Regions from separate parts of the Homo sapiens genome. Here region 2 is linked to region 1. The links come from fine-mapping of genetic effects on gene expression. Tissue or cell type: whole blood. Region 1 holds a variant in brackets; the other region holds the start of a gene. All regions are shown on one strand. Distances are from middle to middle.

Region 1 (8,103 bases):
GTACCTGACGGCAGATGTCACCAGAGAGCCTCCCTGCCTGTGTGCATGGGGGTCCTCCCTGTCCTTTCTGGCTCAGCACATCACTGCCTCCGTTTTTAAGCATCCCCGGCCCCACTGGAAACTCTGGCAGGCTCTCCTCTACGCTCCCTCACCATTGATCTGCTTCCCTCTCAGGGCGTGTGATAATTATGGTCTATATAGGGGTGTCCAATCTTTTGGCTTCCCTAGGCCACACTGGAAGAATTGTCTTTGGCCACACATAAAATACACTAACACTAACACTAACGATAGTGCTGATGAGCTTAAAAAAAAATAAAATAAAAAAATCATGTTTTAAGAAAGTTTATGAATTGTGTTGGGCTGCATTCAAAGCCGTCCTGGGCTGCATGTAGCCCGCGGGCCATGGGTTGGACAAACTTGGTCTACCATATACCATGGCTGTGTAAAGACAGACATCCTGAGAAGAGGATTCCTGCATTCTTCTGTCTATGAAGACACCAATTCCTAACTTTTAAATTACTGTTGTAGAAGAATGAATGAAAAGGTAACTTCCTACCTCCCATACAAGAGCAGATACACTTTTGTATTCCAAGAACTAGGCCATGGCTCTCAAACTCTGGATAGCTTACAACAAAGTCAGAATCTCAGGCCCTATCCCTGTCTCTATATCTTTAAGCTCCTCCAGTGATTCTGATGCTAGTCTCCATAGGCCACACTTCAGGAAACTCTGAAGTAAGAAATTATTTAAACATCAGGCTGGATGCAGTGGCTCACGCCTAATCCCAGTACTTTGGGAGGCTGAGGTGGGTGGATCACTTGAGGCCAGGAGGTCGAAACCAGCCTGGCCAACATGGCAAAACCCCATTTCTACTAAAAATACAAAAATTAGCTGGCGTGGTGGTGTGCACCTGTGATCCCAGCTACTTGGGGGGCTGAGGCACAAGAATTGCTCAAACCCAGGAGGTGGAGAGGTTGCGGTAAGCCAAGATCGCACCACTGCACTCCAGCCTGGGTGACAGAGCGAGACTGTCTCAAAACAAAACAAAACAAAACAAAACAAAACAAAACAAAACAAAACTCCTCCTGTGCTCCTTTCCCTGGACAATTTCTTTAGCATTTCAGGAACTGCATTGAAAAAAAAAAATCCTCGCCTTTAATTGGAAGGTTAAATCCCCATAATTAGTTTGGCTCTTTTGGGGAGTGGGAGGGAGATGGGGAAGGATAAGGGTAGAGGAAGAGAGGACAGTGCTTTGAAACAAAAGGAGAGGCAGGGCCCAAACCTGGAGGCAGGGAAAGGGAGGGAATGGAGGGGAGGTTTTGCATTCTGAAAGTGCCTGGGAATGTAGGGTGTCCTTGTGGCAGGCTAGGGAGGCTCTGGTGCTTAAGTGTCATTCTATGTCCAAGCCTGTGCCACACAAGAGTGAGGATGCTGCCCTCAAGAGTGAGGGGCCAGGGAATCGGGCGCAGCAGTCAGCGACTGAAGATCAGACCAGGGGACCTTCCCCAACCTCTGAGCTCAGTTCAGCCCTGAGGTTTCTGTATGTTCCTGAGGGAAGAGAATGGGTCTCTGCCAAAACAGAGGCTGAGAATGAATTTCTAATTAAGTATGGTGGGTAGAACCTGAGTCCAAGATTACCATAAAAATATGGAAGCATGGCATTTCTTATATTCCACTACCACATAACAAATGCTTTCCATTTTAAAAATGATTGTATTTTTGCATCTACTATGTGCCATCCACAAAGAAGGTACTCAAAAACTTGAATAAATGGATGAATGAATGAATACTGAATGACTAGGAAAAGTCACTGTTTAATACAGCAGATTTGAAAAGAGAGAAGAAAGGACCTTTCATTGGCCTCTGGCCTCATTCAGGACTTGCGTTCTGGTCGGAAGGATAAAACTGGCATTTCTAAGTCAATACCAGAGTTTCCTTTTCAGAAGGTAAGACACCGTGGTGCAGAACTAATTACACTTTATGTAGCACTCATCTAAGTCTACTGACCATATGCTGTGGAACCATGGACTGCAGAAAGGGCTGCATTATTTCTACCATGGAGATGTCTATCTATCCATTATCATGAGCACACAAGACAGGGAGAGGAAGAGAAAGGACAGCTGGCCACCCTGTGAGGTGAAGTCTTTCCGCTTCAAGGCAGCACCTGTCAGGCTCCGAGAAAACGCAAGGTATGTATGTACTGGGCAGAATCTCCGCAGGCTCCCAACGACCCCCTGGGACCAGCGGCCCCACCAAGGGTGAGAGCTCAGCCCAGAAGGAGCCCATGTGCTCCTCTATTCTCCTTGAGGCCTCTACTCTTCTTGGCTTTGCAAAGGATGGAAGATTCCGTGAGCCCTGGCTAAGTACATTCTAACCTGGGTCTTGTGCTGTCACCTCCTTGAGTTTGGCTGTGACATAAAACAACTCTTCCTTTTTTCTTAAAAAACGAAACAAAACCACCACCACCACCAAAGTTCATACATGGAACTCTATGTCAAGACCACAGCTCTGGACCAGATCCATATGACCATCACCCGGCCTCACACACCACGCACCTAATGCTGGTTTGTGCTGGCACAGAAACTGTATACCCAAGCTCTGGTCAGAGCCCCATGGCCAGTTAATGCCATTCAGCCACTCATTCCTGCCATGCAAACGAACACTCACCATCTGTCTGCTCCCAACCTCCCACCTCAATACTGCTCTGTGCTTTCTTTCCCTAATTTTCTCCTAGCAATTCCTTTTGACCATTCTCCAGAATTCCTATTCTATCACACTCATTAACAATTTAGAAATCATTAGAGAACTACATACTTAGCTGAAATATCAAAAGGTACTGAAAGGCTAGTCATGAAAAGCAATGTTCCCTGCTCTTCCTCTGCTCTTCTGAAGGCTTCTCTCCAGGGACCCCCACCTTGAACTAGGTTACTTTTCAGTTCTTCTGGCAGTTGCCTTTTTATCATTAATGTTTTTATTGTTATTTCCTGATCTATCCATTTTAGGCATCACTTTAACCAACCTCTTACTGAAACAGAAGGTGATTTTGGTCATCAGCCCCGCCCCTCCCTCCAGTATATATCACTGCTCTTAGTGCCTCTGTTAGTTCCTGTGCCATTATCCTGAGGGTGACAGTGATGGAAAGATGCCACCACAGATAGGAAGTGGACATGACTCTCTGGGATATGGGGAGACGATGTGCCTGTTACCCACACACAGCTACAAGATCAGAAGACAATGCAGCCATAGCCCACTGAAGGGCGGCTTCCCAGGCCCCACAGGGAGGAGCCCTCAGACCCTGATGCACCTGTGCGTCGGGGTGAAGGCAGGAGGCTTGCTGGGAAGCTCCGTTTTCCATTCTCACCAAGACAGGTGGGCTGGTTTGAGGGAGAGGGAGTTTTGCCCCTGACCCCTGAGTGTTCTAGAGACTGTCCACTGTTAACTGGTAAAACCCCCGTACAATGCTGTGTACTTCCTGTAAAGGCGAACAGAACTTCAGCTCCAGGGTGCACTATGCTCCAGGCCCGCCCAGCAGAGGCATGCTCCTGTAGCTGTCTGTAGGAGGCCAAATCATATACTCATACCTTTATTTCTTCTTCTACCACCTGTATTATTCTTTTCATTGTGTAATTTTTTTTCTTTTTTAGTAGGGATGGGGGTCTCACTATATTGCCCAGGCTGGTCTCGAACTCCTGGCTTCAAGTGATCCTTCCGTCTCAGGCTCTCAAAGTGCTGGGATTACAGACATGAGCTACCATGCTCAGCTTCTTTTTCATTTTGGAAAATCTTAAGCTTTTTAAAAAGTAGAAAGAGCACTATAATGAACCTCACACGCTCATCATCCTGCTTTAGTAAATTATCAGCTCAAGGCCAACCTTGTTTCATCCACACTACACTTACTTTCCCTATGATCATATTATTTTGAAGCATTCCCCAGACCCAATCATTTCCCTCTTAACTATTTCAATATTGACAGGAGCACTGAACTTTCTTCTTTGTAAAATTTGGATGTTTATGTCCTCAGCCCTCCCTTTTCTTCTATCTTCTAACTCTCTGGACAAAATTCTAACCAACAACAATCCAATCTTCTAACTCCACGCTGTGTAGACTGAGATAACAGATTCTTGGTTGCCAACCTCAGCCAGCCCATAGCACTGGTCAGCAATTGTTCTGACAATATCAGAAAAAGGTGTCGGCTCCTTTATAAAAGTTATAAAAGTTGTAAAAAAGAAAAAGTTCTGATACCTACCGTAAAGCCCTTATACTAACAACTATATACTCATCTGGCATACATTTAGGGAGT[A/G]TCTCCAACTGATTAGCACATGACACTGAGGACACTGAGGGATAAAAATGCGATCCTTGCCATTAAGAAATCTTCGTATAGTGGAAACAGACACTCTGCTGTGGAGGTGCAGAGGAGGAAAGGAAGTTGCTATGGGATGTGTGTCATCAGATGGTCCCCTTCCCTGGGTTTCTACACAAGAATTCCACCTGGACTCCCTGGACTCCTGGACCTCCTAAGTCCTCCCAGGACTTAGGCCTGGCTCCTTCCAATCCACACTCCCAACTGCTGCCAGTGGGGTCTTTCTAAACACTGATCGTCGGTGACTTTTCGGCCTAAAACATCTCAACAATTCCCAGTCACATCAGGACTCAAGTTCACAGCCTGCAATCTCCAGTCTCTTCATAATGGCCCTCCCCAGCTCTCCACCTTCTTGCTCATAGCACTGTCACCAGCTCTGCTAAACTCCTGGTAGTTCCTGAAAGGGCTGGTCATTTCCTTTCCCCACCACGAACACCCCCTTCCCCCGCCCCCATGCTCCTTAGGAATCAGCTCTGGTGTGATCTCTCTTAACTTGGACTCAGGTGACACAGGGCACTCCCCTCCCCTCTCATGGCTCCCAGGAATGCATGGGCACACCTCCAACACCGAGCTTCTAACGAGGTGCCTGCTGTCCACTCACAGCTGCTGCTCTGGGCCAGAAAGTCTGCTGGCTGAATGAATTTTAAGGAAGTCTAGTGGGTTCCTGGCTCTGGAGATCACAGGAGAGAAGTCTGCTAGAGACAAAGATTTACCTGTCCAGCCAAAGGCAATGTTCCCAGATGGTGTGGATGAGATTGCCCAGGGAAAAAGAGTCCAGATGAAACCCAAGGGAACAATAGCATTAAAGAGCTGACAAGAGACAACCAAAGCGAAAGCTGAAAAGCAGGGGACTTTCGAGACAAAGGAATAACACATTTTTCTTTTTTTTTTTTTTAATTATACTTTAAGTTTTAGGGTACATGTGCACAACATGCAGGTTTGTTACATATGTATACATATGCCATGTTGGTGTGCTGCACCCATTAACTCGTCATTTAACATTAGGTATATCCCCTAATGCTATCCCTTCCCCTTCCCCCCACCCCACAACAGGCCCTGGTGTGTGATGTTCCCCTTCCTGTGTCCATGCGTCCTCATTGTTCAGTTTGCACCTATGAATGAGAACAAGCGGTGTTCAGTTTTTTGTCCTTGCGATAGTTTGCTGAGAATGATGGGGGCAACATGGTAAAACCCTGTCTCTACTAAAATACAAAAAATTAGCTGGGCGTGGTGAAGTGTTCCTGTAGTCCCAGCTACTCGCAAGGCTGAGGCACGAGAATCACTTGAACCCAGGAGGCAGATGTTGCAGCGAGCCAAGATTGCACCACTGTACTCCAGCCTGGGCGACAGAGTGAGACTCTGTCTCCAAAAAAAAAAAAAAAGAAAAAAGAAAAAAGAAAAGAATTAAACTGTACTTAAAAGCATGTGTCTTTCTTTGTTTCAAACTATATTTAAGGTTCTTGTACAGCCTTGTGGGTTTCATCATAAAGAAAAATTTTTTTTTTTTTTGGAGACAGGAGTCTTGCTCTGTCGCTCAGGCTGCAGTACAGTGGTGCAATCTTGGCTCGCTGCAACATCTGCCTCCTGGGTTCAAGTGATTCTTGTGCCTCAGCCTTGCAAGTAGCTGGGACTACAGGAACACTTCACCACGCCCAGCTAATTTTTTGTACTTTAGTAGAGACAGGGTTTTACTATGTTGCCCAGCCTGGTCTCAAACTCCTGAGCTAAAGCGATCTGCCCGCCTCGGCCTCCCTAAGTGCTAGAATTACAGCACAACCATATAATTCTTAAAACTCTTAAGATACAGACAATTAACACCAGGAGGTACGGATATGCACTGTTATTATACAATAAATATAAACATTAAAAGTATATCTGACACTATTCATAATAGCCAAAGAGTGAAAACCACCCAAGCATCCATCGATAGAAAAATGGATAAACAAAACGTGGTATATACATATAAGGAAGATTATTCAGCTATGACAAGGAATAAGTACTGAAACATACTAAACACGGGTGAACCTTGAAAACAGTATGCTAAGTGAGAGCATATCATGTGACTCAATTTATATAAAATGTCCAGAATAGGCAAATCCACAGAGACAGGAAATACAGACTGGGGGTTGCCGGAAGAGGGGGGAATGAGGACTGACTGCTAGGGGCTTCTTCTGGAAGTGGTGAAAATATTCTAAAATTGGCTGTAGTGACGGGTGGCTGCACGCTTCTGTGAATACACTGAAAACCACTGAATTGTGTACTTTAAATGAGCGAACTGTATGGTATGTAAATGATGTCTCAATAAAGCTGTTATAAGAAAAAAAGCACATCCAAGTGAACAAAAGTTTCACACATCCCTTGCTCAGTATAGCGATCCTGTTAGCACCCATAAACAGAACTCTAAAATCTAAATGAATGCCCAGTTCTCAATACCAATTCTGTGTTGCCTTTACTTGTGAACACTGGCCTCTTACATAAAACAGTAGATGAAACACCCAGCACGCAGACTTCTATATTAGCTCCACATTACAGTAACAACCTCTGTTGCAGAGTCGGGAACGAGCCAGAGCCTCACCACTCCACCTTCCCACCTCACACACTTTCTGTCCAACCATCTTCTATCTTGAATACCTACCGCCCACGCCCCCAAACTATGGACATAGCTGAAGCCGGCTGAGCCCCGGCTTACTGGGGAGAACAACTAGGATAGCTTTCAGAAAGCAGGGGCAGAGGGAAGGGTGCTCACCCACAGGAACAACCAATCAAAAAACAGGCACAACCGGCCCCAACACACCCGCCACCCTCCCAGAAACAGGACTTTTCAGTCTGTGGGTTTTGTTTGTTTTTTAGCTGCATCTACAAAGATTTTTATAGTCAGTTTCAAATTCCCTCAGCAGTTATAGGTTTTGATCTGTTCCTAATTATGGAAAAGAATCCTGGGATTGGTTCAGAGTGAAGGAACTTGAGTTTAGTATTACCATTTTTAAAGCCCCAATGCTTACACAAATTTCCAACTAGAGAATTAGATTTCCTCAGTTACTTTGCTTTAAAAAAATGAGAATCTCAATTTTTAAAATCTCATTTAAAAAATGAGAATCTCAATTTTTAAAATCTCATTTAAAAAAGGAGAATCTCAATTTTTAAAATCTCATTTAAAAAAGGAGAATCTCAATTTTTAAAATCTCATTTAAAAAAGGAGAATCTCAATTTTTAAAATCTCATTTAAAAAAGGAGAATCTCAATTTTTAAAATCTAATTTAAAAAATGAGAATCAAAGGCAAAACGGCTTTGCCTGCATCGAAAGCCATACTGAAATTTAACTGAATGGCCTACACTGCACTATTTAGACATTTCCCTACTGTCTTCCTTAAATAAGTCTCTCCATTTTTACTGAATTTGCACAGTTGCTAAATGTGTGTATTTAAGAGCCATGCTACACACCTAGAAAAGCTAAGTCTCTGGGGAAAAAACAGCAATAAAGAAACATGCAGCCCTTGTTGAGAACATGATGTATTTACCCAGGAAGACACGAGCTCAGCCCTCCACATAGCGCACAGCCAGATACGGTCCCCAAAGCAGAGAGAACCAGTGTCAACCAGGCTCTCATGCGAGGACTGAGAACACACGGTGACACGGGCCTAGTCACAGTGAATAGTGCAGTCATTTGTACCAAACAGCAAAAAGACACGTTTGCAATAGAACTTACCTGCGTTTTCAAGGAAAGCTTGGCAAACTAAATGGTGGG
Region 2 (8,103 bases), 150 kb after region 1:
AACCTCCGCTTCCCGGGTTCAAGCAATTCTCCTGCCTCAGCCTCCCGAGTAGCTGGGATCACAGGCGCCTGCCACCATGCCCAGGTAATTTTTTGTATTTTTAGTAGAGACGGGGATTCACTATGTTGGCCAGGCTGGTCTCAACTCCTAACCTCTTGATCTGCCCGCCTCAGCCTCCCAAAGTGCTGGGATTACAGGCGTGAGTCACCGCGCTTGGCCTCGACTAAAATTTTATTGAGTTTTTGTTGTTGTTGTTGTTGTTTTGAGATGGACTCTCGCTCTGTCACCCAGGCTGGAGTGCAGTGGTGCGATCTCGGCTCACTGCAAGCTCTGCCTCCCGGGTTCACGCCATTCTCCTGCCTCAGCCTCCCGAGTAGCTGGGACTACAGGTGCCCGCCACCACGCCCGGCTAATTTTTTGTATTTTTAGTGGAGACGGGGTTTCACCAAGTTAGCCAGGATGGTCTCGATCTCCTGACCTCGTGATACACCGCCTCGGCCTCCCAAAGTGCTGGGATTACAGGTGTTAGCCACCACGCCTGGCCTACTGAGTTTTTTTTAAAAGACCAGAGTCATAAGTTCCTCCTACTTTCATTTTTAAAAATGCAAAATCCCAAAGCCCACAAAATATAATGGTATCATCAGGACCAAAGTCATAATTGTCTACCCAGGAAACAGCACTGACATCACCTAGAATCAGCTCAAAGGGAATGTCCACAATAAGCAGGGGAGTCCCTTCACTCACCTGTGACACTATTTGAGACAACCAGTGTCAGGACTGCCTGTTCCCTGCAACAAGTAGCTCTTATCCAATCCTCTGGGCTTTCCATGTGGACTCTCAGAGAGAGCTCCCTGGCAATCTCCCTCATAGGTCGATGACTCCAAACTTAACATCTGCCAGGTGTGTACTCTGAGAGCACCCCAAACTCAGCATGCATGCAATTAAATGTCTAACACCTGCTCCTGTGTCCCTGTGTCTGTTAATGGTATCACTGTCCTCTCAACCACCCAAGACAGGATCTAGTTTTCTTTCCCTCACCATCCCCCACCTTTCCAAGAGCAAACCAGTTTACACGGAAGACTTGTCCATTTCACCTCTACAAGCTCTCATTACCACTGCTCTGACCCATGCCAACAGATCCCACCTAGCTGCCCCCTATCTCTCATGCCCAAAGTGAGTGTACCTACTCTGAACATTACAGATTGATCTTGCTATGAAGTCCCCTTCCCACACCGCTGGTCCCCACTGCCTACCACAGTGTCCCAGGTTTTCAGAACTTGAAGGATCCTCGTCTGACTCAACCATCCATTCACCTGACCTTGGAAGCTTCTCAAATGGAAAATGCCCTGGCCTCACCTTCAAGGCCATTTGTATTCTGGCTCCAATCTAAAAGCCTATAATGTCATGAAAATAGGCGTGAACTACGCCATTTCACAGCTCTTGGGCTAAAGGTCAAAATTCTCAATCCAACCCACAGATCTCCACTTGGCCTGGCTTCCCGCCTTTCTCTCCAGTCTTGCCAAGCTCCCCTTTGCTCTCTCTGCTCCTGCCACCTGGCCTTCCATCCGCTTCAACCCCAAGCCTCTGTACCTGCTGGCCCCTCAGCACCCCACCCCTCACGCAGGTAGTACCATCTCACCCCTCAGACTTCACATCGCTTCCTCAGTGACTTACCTTACCCCTAGACTAAGTCAAGTCCTCTGTTTGTCTCCTGCTCTTTACCTCCACAGCCTTAAACAAAATTACAATAAAATTTTTGTTGGATTTTTTTACTCCCAAGCTGAAATGTGAGCTCCGTAAGAGCAGGACTGTGCCTGTCTTGTATACCACTGTATCTCACAACCTAAAACATAGGAGCCCTCAACAAATACATGTAGGTTAATGGAATTCATAAATCAGAACACCCTAAGTTACAAAAGCAGCTTCACTGCATCAGTGGTCCTGAAGTAACTTGGTTTCTCCATCCATAAAACTAAAGAGCTCATCTGCTCAACGTTCTCTGAGTTCCTCAGAAGACCTAATATTACCTAAGTCTACAATTTTGCTATTCCAAACTCCTCTCTCACAACTCTCTTCCACATAGGCAGCAGCAAAACTTTACTTTCCAGCCTCCACAACTTTGTTTGCACCCTTCTTTCCATCTGTAATTTTTTTCCAGCTCCACATTTCCAAATCCTACTTAACCTTACATGCTCAAATCCAATGTTACCGCCTCCTCAAAGTCCTCCTTGCATCCCTCCAGCTAGCCACAACCTCTCCATCCCTGAATTCCCACAAGTTCCCTGTTGCCTCATTCAGGTCTCAGATCAAATGTCATTTCAAATGAGAACCCTCTCCAAGAGTCACCACCGGTTATAATTCTCTATCAGACCACGCTGTTTTTATTTTCTTGATAGCATTTACCATTACCTGAAATTACCATGTTTATTTCTCTCATTTATTTACTTGTTAAGTGCCTGTTGCTCCCACTAGAATGTTAAGGTCAATGAGAGCAGAGGCCCTGTCTGTCTTGTTCACATTTCCCCACTCCCCCACATCAGACATGTGTTCAGTAAGCTAAATACCTGTCAAAGGCGTGAATGACTCTGTAACCCTTATGACTAGGGTTATGTGCGCACATTATCTTTCTCTTGCTATATTCCAAACTCCCTGTGGACAAGGCCAAAGTCTGGCTAATCTGTCTGTATTATCTGGAAAATCATTGCACAACTGAAGCAAATAACGATAACTGCTAATTAATTTATTGATTTCTCCAAGAGGAACTGCCCCAAACTAAGCCAATTCAGAACTTCATATTGTCCAGAAACCAAGGCAAATAGGAATCTCCTTCCATTCCCTCTTCACCACAGACCCTATTCCAATTTGCCACCTCCAGGGAGCTTTTGCCAAAAGGCTAGTTTCCTCACTTTCCTTTAGAAGGACCACTGGTCCTTCTATCCCTAATATCTTACAATGCTACCCTTTCCCTTTTATCTCCAGCCAACAAAGCATTTCCAGGGCCCTGTTTCTTCAGAGCACCCCACATCTCCAGTGCATCGGGGAACTCATCGGGTCCTAGGGCACATGTGGATGTTAAAAGGAAGTGTTCAAGCAAACCTGGCTCGACCACCTTTCCTTGGATACCTCGTTTAGCTGAAACACGCCGAGTTTTAGAGCGATCGGCTTTGATGCTCTTTGGGTCCCTCAGCATTCTTCCCATCTAACTAACCTAAGCACCCAAATACCGTCGGGGTGCCCCCACCCTTGCCCCACACCTTTTCACCTTCCAACAGAGAAAGACCCCAGGCCAGAGACGATGATCTCCCCGGAAGCAAATGGCCCTCAAACCCCATAGGGCGGCCCTACCCTCTCCACTTTCTGTCCAGCATCTCCCTCTGACCTGGAGCCGTCTCGAACGCCCCTCAGCCCCAGCCTCTGGTTGGACCCGACCCTCCGACACCACCCGCCACTCACCTGAAGCGGCCCCCGCAGTGCTGGCATTGCTCGCCCACCCAGCCGGCGGGGCAGACGCACTGGCCGGTGCCAGGGTTGCAGCGACCGCCGTTGACACAGGGCCGGTCACATTCCTTGGCCTCGGCTGCGGCTGAGCCCGACACCGCCGCCGCCGCCGCCGCGGCCTCGGCCTCACAGGGCAGCAGCAGCAGCAGCAGCGGCGGCGAGAGCAACAACAGCAGCAGCAGCAGCCGTGGCCGCAGCGGTGGAGACAGCAGCCGCGGGAGGCGCAGCCCGGCCCCCAGCCCCGGCCTCCCAGCCCTGGTCACGTCCCAGTCCCAGTGCGGCCCGCCGCTCCTGCCCGCGAGCGCTGCCGTCGCCGCCGTCCTCCTCCTCAGCCTTGCCTCAGTTGCCGCCGCTGCAGCCACCATCTTCCCGGGGCTGAGACGGCGCCCCGCGAACACATACACACACACCGCACGGCCGGCTCCGCTTCGCCTGGCCGTGCGGGGCGGGGCTGTGCGGACGGTGGCTCGTGCGGTCCAAAGGGGCCACAGCGGGGCGGTGGGCGGGGCCGGCGCGCGCGTGCGCGAGTACGTGGGTGCGTGCGTGCGGGGGCGCAGACAGTGGTCTCCGGCGTCCGCGGCGCCGGAGGCGATCTTCTGACGTGGACCGTAGAACGAGCTGAAACCCGGCTGCGCTGTCCCGGCCGGCGAAAGCTCTAGTTTTCCCCCTTCGCCTTTCGTCCCCGGCGGCGGGGTTGCAGCCCCACTGGATGCCTAGGAGCCGACTGCGTTGAGTGTTGCCCTCCTAGAGACCCGGCACTCTGCCCTAACTCCAGCTGCCGGACGGAAAGGGTACAGGAGGCTGCATCGCAGCGAGGTGCTGGGTGCGGTACTGTAGAAGCCAGGCTTCATTCGAGCCTCTGTAACACAAGAGTCAAGAAAGAACACATGTAGAACCTGGCATAGGCCGGGCGCGGAGGCTTACGCCTGTAATCCCAGCACTTTGGGAAACTGAGGCAGGCGGATCACTTGATCTCTGGGATCCGAGACCAGCCTGGCCAACAGGGTGAGACACTGTCTCTACTAAAAATACAAAAATTAGCCGAGCATGGTGGTGCGCGCCTGTATCCCCAGCTACTCCAGAGGCTGAGGCAGGAGGATCGCTTGAGTCTGGAGAGGTCAAGGCTGCAGTGAGCCGCAGTCGCAGCACTGCACTCCAGCCTGGGCAACACAAGACCCTGTGTCAAAAAATGAAGAACCTGGCATGTAGGCTGTGCTCAGTAAATGCCTAATAAACTGAATGAAGACACACAGCCAGGCCTCTTGATAACAGATGGACTGTAGCTGACCAGACCCCCTACCTTTAATTCTGTAAAAGTTTGGAGTTACCTTGCTCCCCACAATTTGCCCTCCAACCATCTTCTCTGAAGAGTGGGCAATATAGAATTAGGAAATGGCGCTCACACAGACCTGCCCCTTCTTGTCTGGTAGTTGTTACTCTGGTGTCCCTCAATGAGACATGTCTTCCATCAATGTAGCCTTTTATGGTCCTTGACCCTGGAATCTGGGCTGGGTCATGATTGAGACCATGAGAAACCATGACTCAATTTCACCAATAGAAGAAGTTGGTAGGAGTAGCAATGTCTTGTTTCTAGCTCTGAGCTTAAAAAAGACCTGGCAGCCTTGGCCGGGCACGGTGGCTCACGTCTGTAATCCCAGCACCTTGGGAGGCCGAGGCGGGCAGATCACGAGGTCAGAAGTTCGAGACCACCCTGATCGACGTGGTGAAACCCTGTCTCTACAAAAAATACAAAAATTAGCCGGGCGTGGTGGCACACACCTGTAATCCCAGCTACTCAGGAGAGTCGCTTGAATCCAGGAGGCAGAGGTTGCAGAGAGTCGTGATCGCGCCACTGCACTCCAGCCTGGGGGACAGAGCGAGACTCTGTCTCAAAAAAAAAAAAAGACCTGGCAGCCTTGATTTTGAGCTGTTGGTGGTCATGAGCTGCACCCCGTTAGCCACCTTGCTGGAGAGAAACCATGTGCAGAGACCACTTGGACTTGGAGAGGGAGAGCTGGGCCGCTCAGCTGGTGGAGCCATCCTAGCTAAGGGATCAGTCATTGAGTGAAGAAGCTATCTGGGTTGGGTTATTCCAACCGTCTGGGCTGTTCCATGTTACCTACAACAGTAACAGGTCTTTCCTAACTGTGACTTATCCAAAATCCTAAGAAATAACTCATTTATCATTTAACCCTTAAGTGATGAATTATTTATAATTTTTCATAAATTATGATTTATGTTATTTTAAGCCTCTAAGTTTTAGAGAGGTTTGTTACTCAGTAATAGATAAGCAGAACATTGTCCGACATAATGCTTGTGCTATGAGGAATATTCCTATGGCACCTACCTCAGAATCTGGGCACCTTACAGTCCCTGGGAAACAAAGAAAAACCCTCATAGACCTGTGGAGCCTCTCAGCTTTACCTCAGAGTATGGAATTTTAAGGTTCTAAGATGGATTTCCACACTCATACCCAGGTCCCACTCTCATACTCAGGTCCTGACTGTCCTCACTGCATCTTCTTCAAGCCTGGTGAAGCTGAATTGCACAAAAGCCTTACCCCCAGCTCTACATCCACACATACTCCCCATTCCTACAGGAAAACTATTGTTCGGCCTAGGCCCTAGCACTGACATTCTGGTTTGCAGGTTATGTTTTTGCCATGTAGGATTTTGAAATTGAAGACATGGCCCTACCCTCTGGCAGGACCCCATCAGATGGGGAGGCTGGCATAGGCCATGCCCTAGCTGTAGGAGACATTGCTCCCCCTAATCTTCCAGGCCAGAAGTGAACCAGCCCTTTCCTTCCCTTCCCTCCCCACAGCAAGACTGAACCCACACTGTGAAGTTTCACATGATTTTACCAACATTCAGGGATAACAGAAAAGGTGTGCATCTGAAGAACAGCAATCCCTAGACTAGATATTGCTACTCTGAAGCCTTAGAATCTTGCTGCAGCAAACATTCTTTCTTACTTCCTTAATCTACTCTCTTCTCTGGTTCTTTTTCCTTAGCTTTCAAACATGCTCAAATTATTTTGTCCTTAAAAAACAAACACGCTGGGTGCAGTGGCTCATGCCTGTAATCCCAGTGCTTTGGGAGGCCAAGGTGGGAGGATCACCTGAGGCCAGGAGTTTGAGACCAGCCTGGACAACATAGTGAGACCTTGTCTCTACAAAAAATTTTTTAAAAAATTAGTCAGATGTGGTGGCGTGCATGTGTAGTCCCAGCTACTTGGGAGGCTGGGGCAGGGGGATCACAGAGCCCAGGAGTTTGAGGCTGCAGTAAGCTATGTTTGGACCACTGCACTCCAGCCTGGGCAACAGATCAAGACCCTGTCTCTAAAAACAAATAAACAAAGAAACAAAATCTTACCTGCTATCTTCTTTTTCCTTTACTGCGTTTATCAAAAAGTCCCCTACACATTCTATGTCTGTGTGATAGATTAAAGATGGCTGCAAATTCTCTTACATTCCTTCTATGGAGAGATCAGGTCTAACCCTTGGCCCCGGCCCCACCCCCACCCCCACCCCCACCCCACTCTGAATCTAGCCTGGCCTTAGTGATTTGCTTGACTGATAGACTATGGTGGAAGTGATGTACTGGGATTTCTGAGGTCCCAGAAATGGGACTTTATGCTAGGTCATAAGAAGTCTTGCAGCTTCCTCCTGAAGTGTCTTGGAACACTTGCCATAAAAGATGTCCAGCTACCCTGAGACCACCATGCTGTGAGGAAGCCAGCCCCCAGCCATTCAAGTCTTCCCAGTTGGGGCCCCAATCATGAAGCAGGGGGGTGTTGTTCCTGCTGAACCCGCCCCAAACTGCAGATACATAAGCAAATAAATGAGCCAACTGGGGACAGTTCGTTACACAATAATAAATTACCAGAATACTCTGTACCCTGGTTCCTCCAAGGACAAGAATAAGTCTTGTGATGTGGACTTGATTAAGAATTAAGAACGACAGTATAATTGTATATAAATGTATAATCTACAACTAGTCATCTATATGTAATACACTAGTATCATTGTCCAGTTGCTTCTCATGAAGGAGGTCACCGTAGTCACCGTAGCTTCAGAAGTGCCTCTGTTGTACCCCAGTGCCTTATCAGCAAGATTCTGCAGCAGTTCTGCCTGAAATCCCTTTTTTTCCACTGGTCTTTGTCATGGTGGTCATTTCCAGGTCCCAGAAACTGTAATGCCAGTGGCAAAGAATACCCAGGCTTTGATACAAATTACTCTAAGTCCAGACACTAAAATAACATTGTTCTTGCCAACTGCATGACCAAAAGGGTTTGTCTCCACTAGGTTAGTGCAGGATGGTTTGAAGGTGCCTATGCCTATTCTTTTTCACTTAAGTAAGGCATCTTACTCACCTTGGCCCTTTCTCTGATTTCATGTCATCTCTTCCTGTTTCTTTGCTTGCATTGTCTCCAAGTCATGGACATAGATGGATTTTATAATTTTTGGCTTTTACTCATGCAGTGTCTTTGGTCAGATTCCCTAGAAGCAGAACCCTGAAACAGGATCTGAGTGCATAATTCATTGGAAGATTGCTCTCGGAAGAAACACAGTGAAGGAAGCAAGATAGAGCCCAGGAGGGGGTT

The links. PIP is the estimated chance that this variant, and not a neighbour inherited with it, causes the effect.
Region 2: it holds the start of ATRN, and the variant in region 1 is fine-mapped to the expression of ATRN in whole blood (TOPMed, PIP above 0.99).

The regions. Positions count from the first base shown.
Region 1 is chr20:3,613,195-3,621,297 of GRCh38, reverse strand. The region is part of intron 24 of ATRN (attractin); the gene reads right to left. Among named protein-coding and RNA genes, the nearest start is that of GFRA4, 46 kb to the left of the region's middle. RefSeq lists a silencer at 105-304. The variant A/G (reference allele first, on the strand shown) is at 4,299.
Region 2 is chr20:3,466,868-3,474,970 of GRCh38, reverse strand. ATRN (attractin) reads right to left here and starts at 3,953. Exons shown (of 29, transcript NM_139321.3): 1 at 3,454-3,953. The coding sequence starts at 3,863. RefSeq lists a silencer at 3,567-4,126 and an enhancer at 4,227-4,366.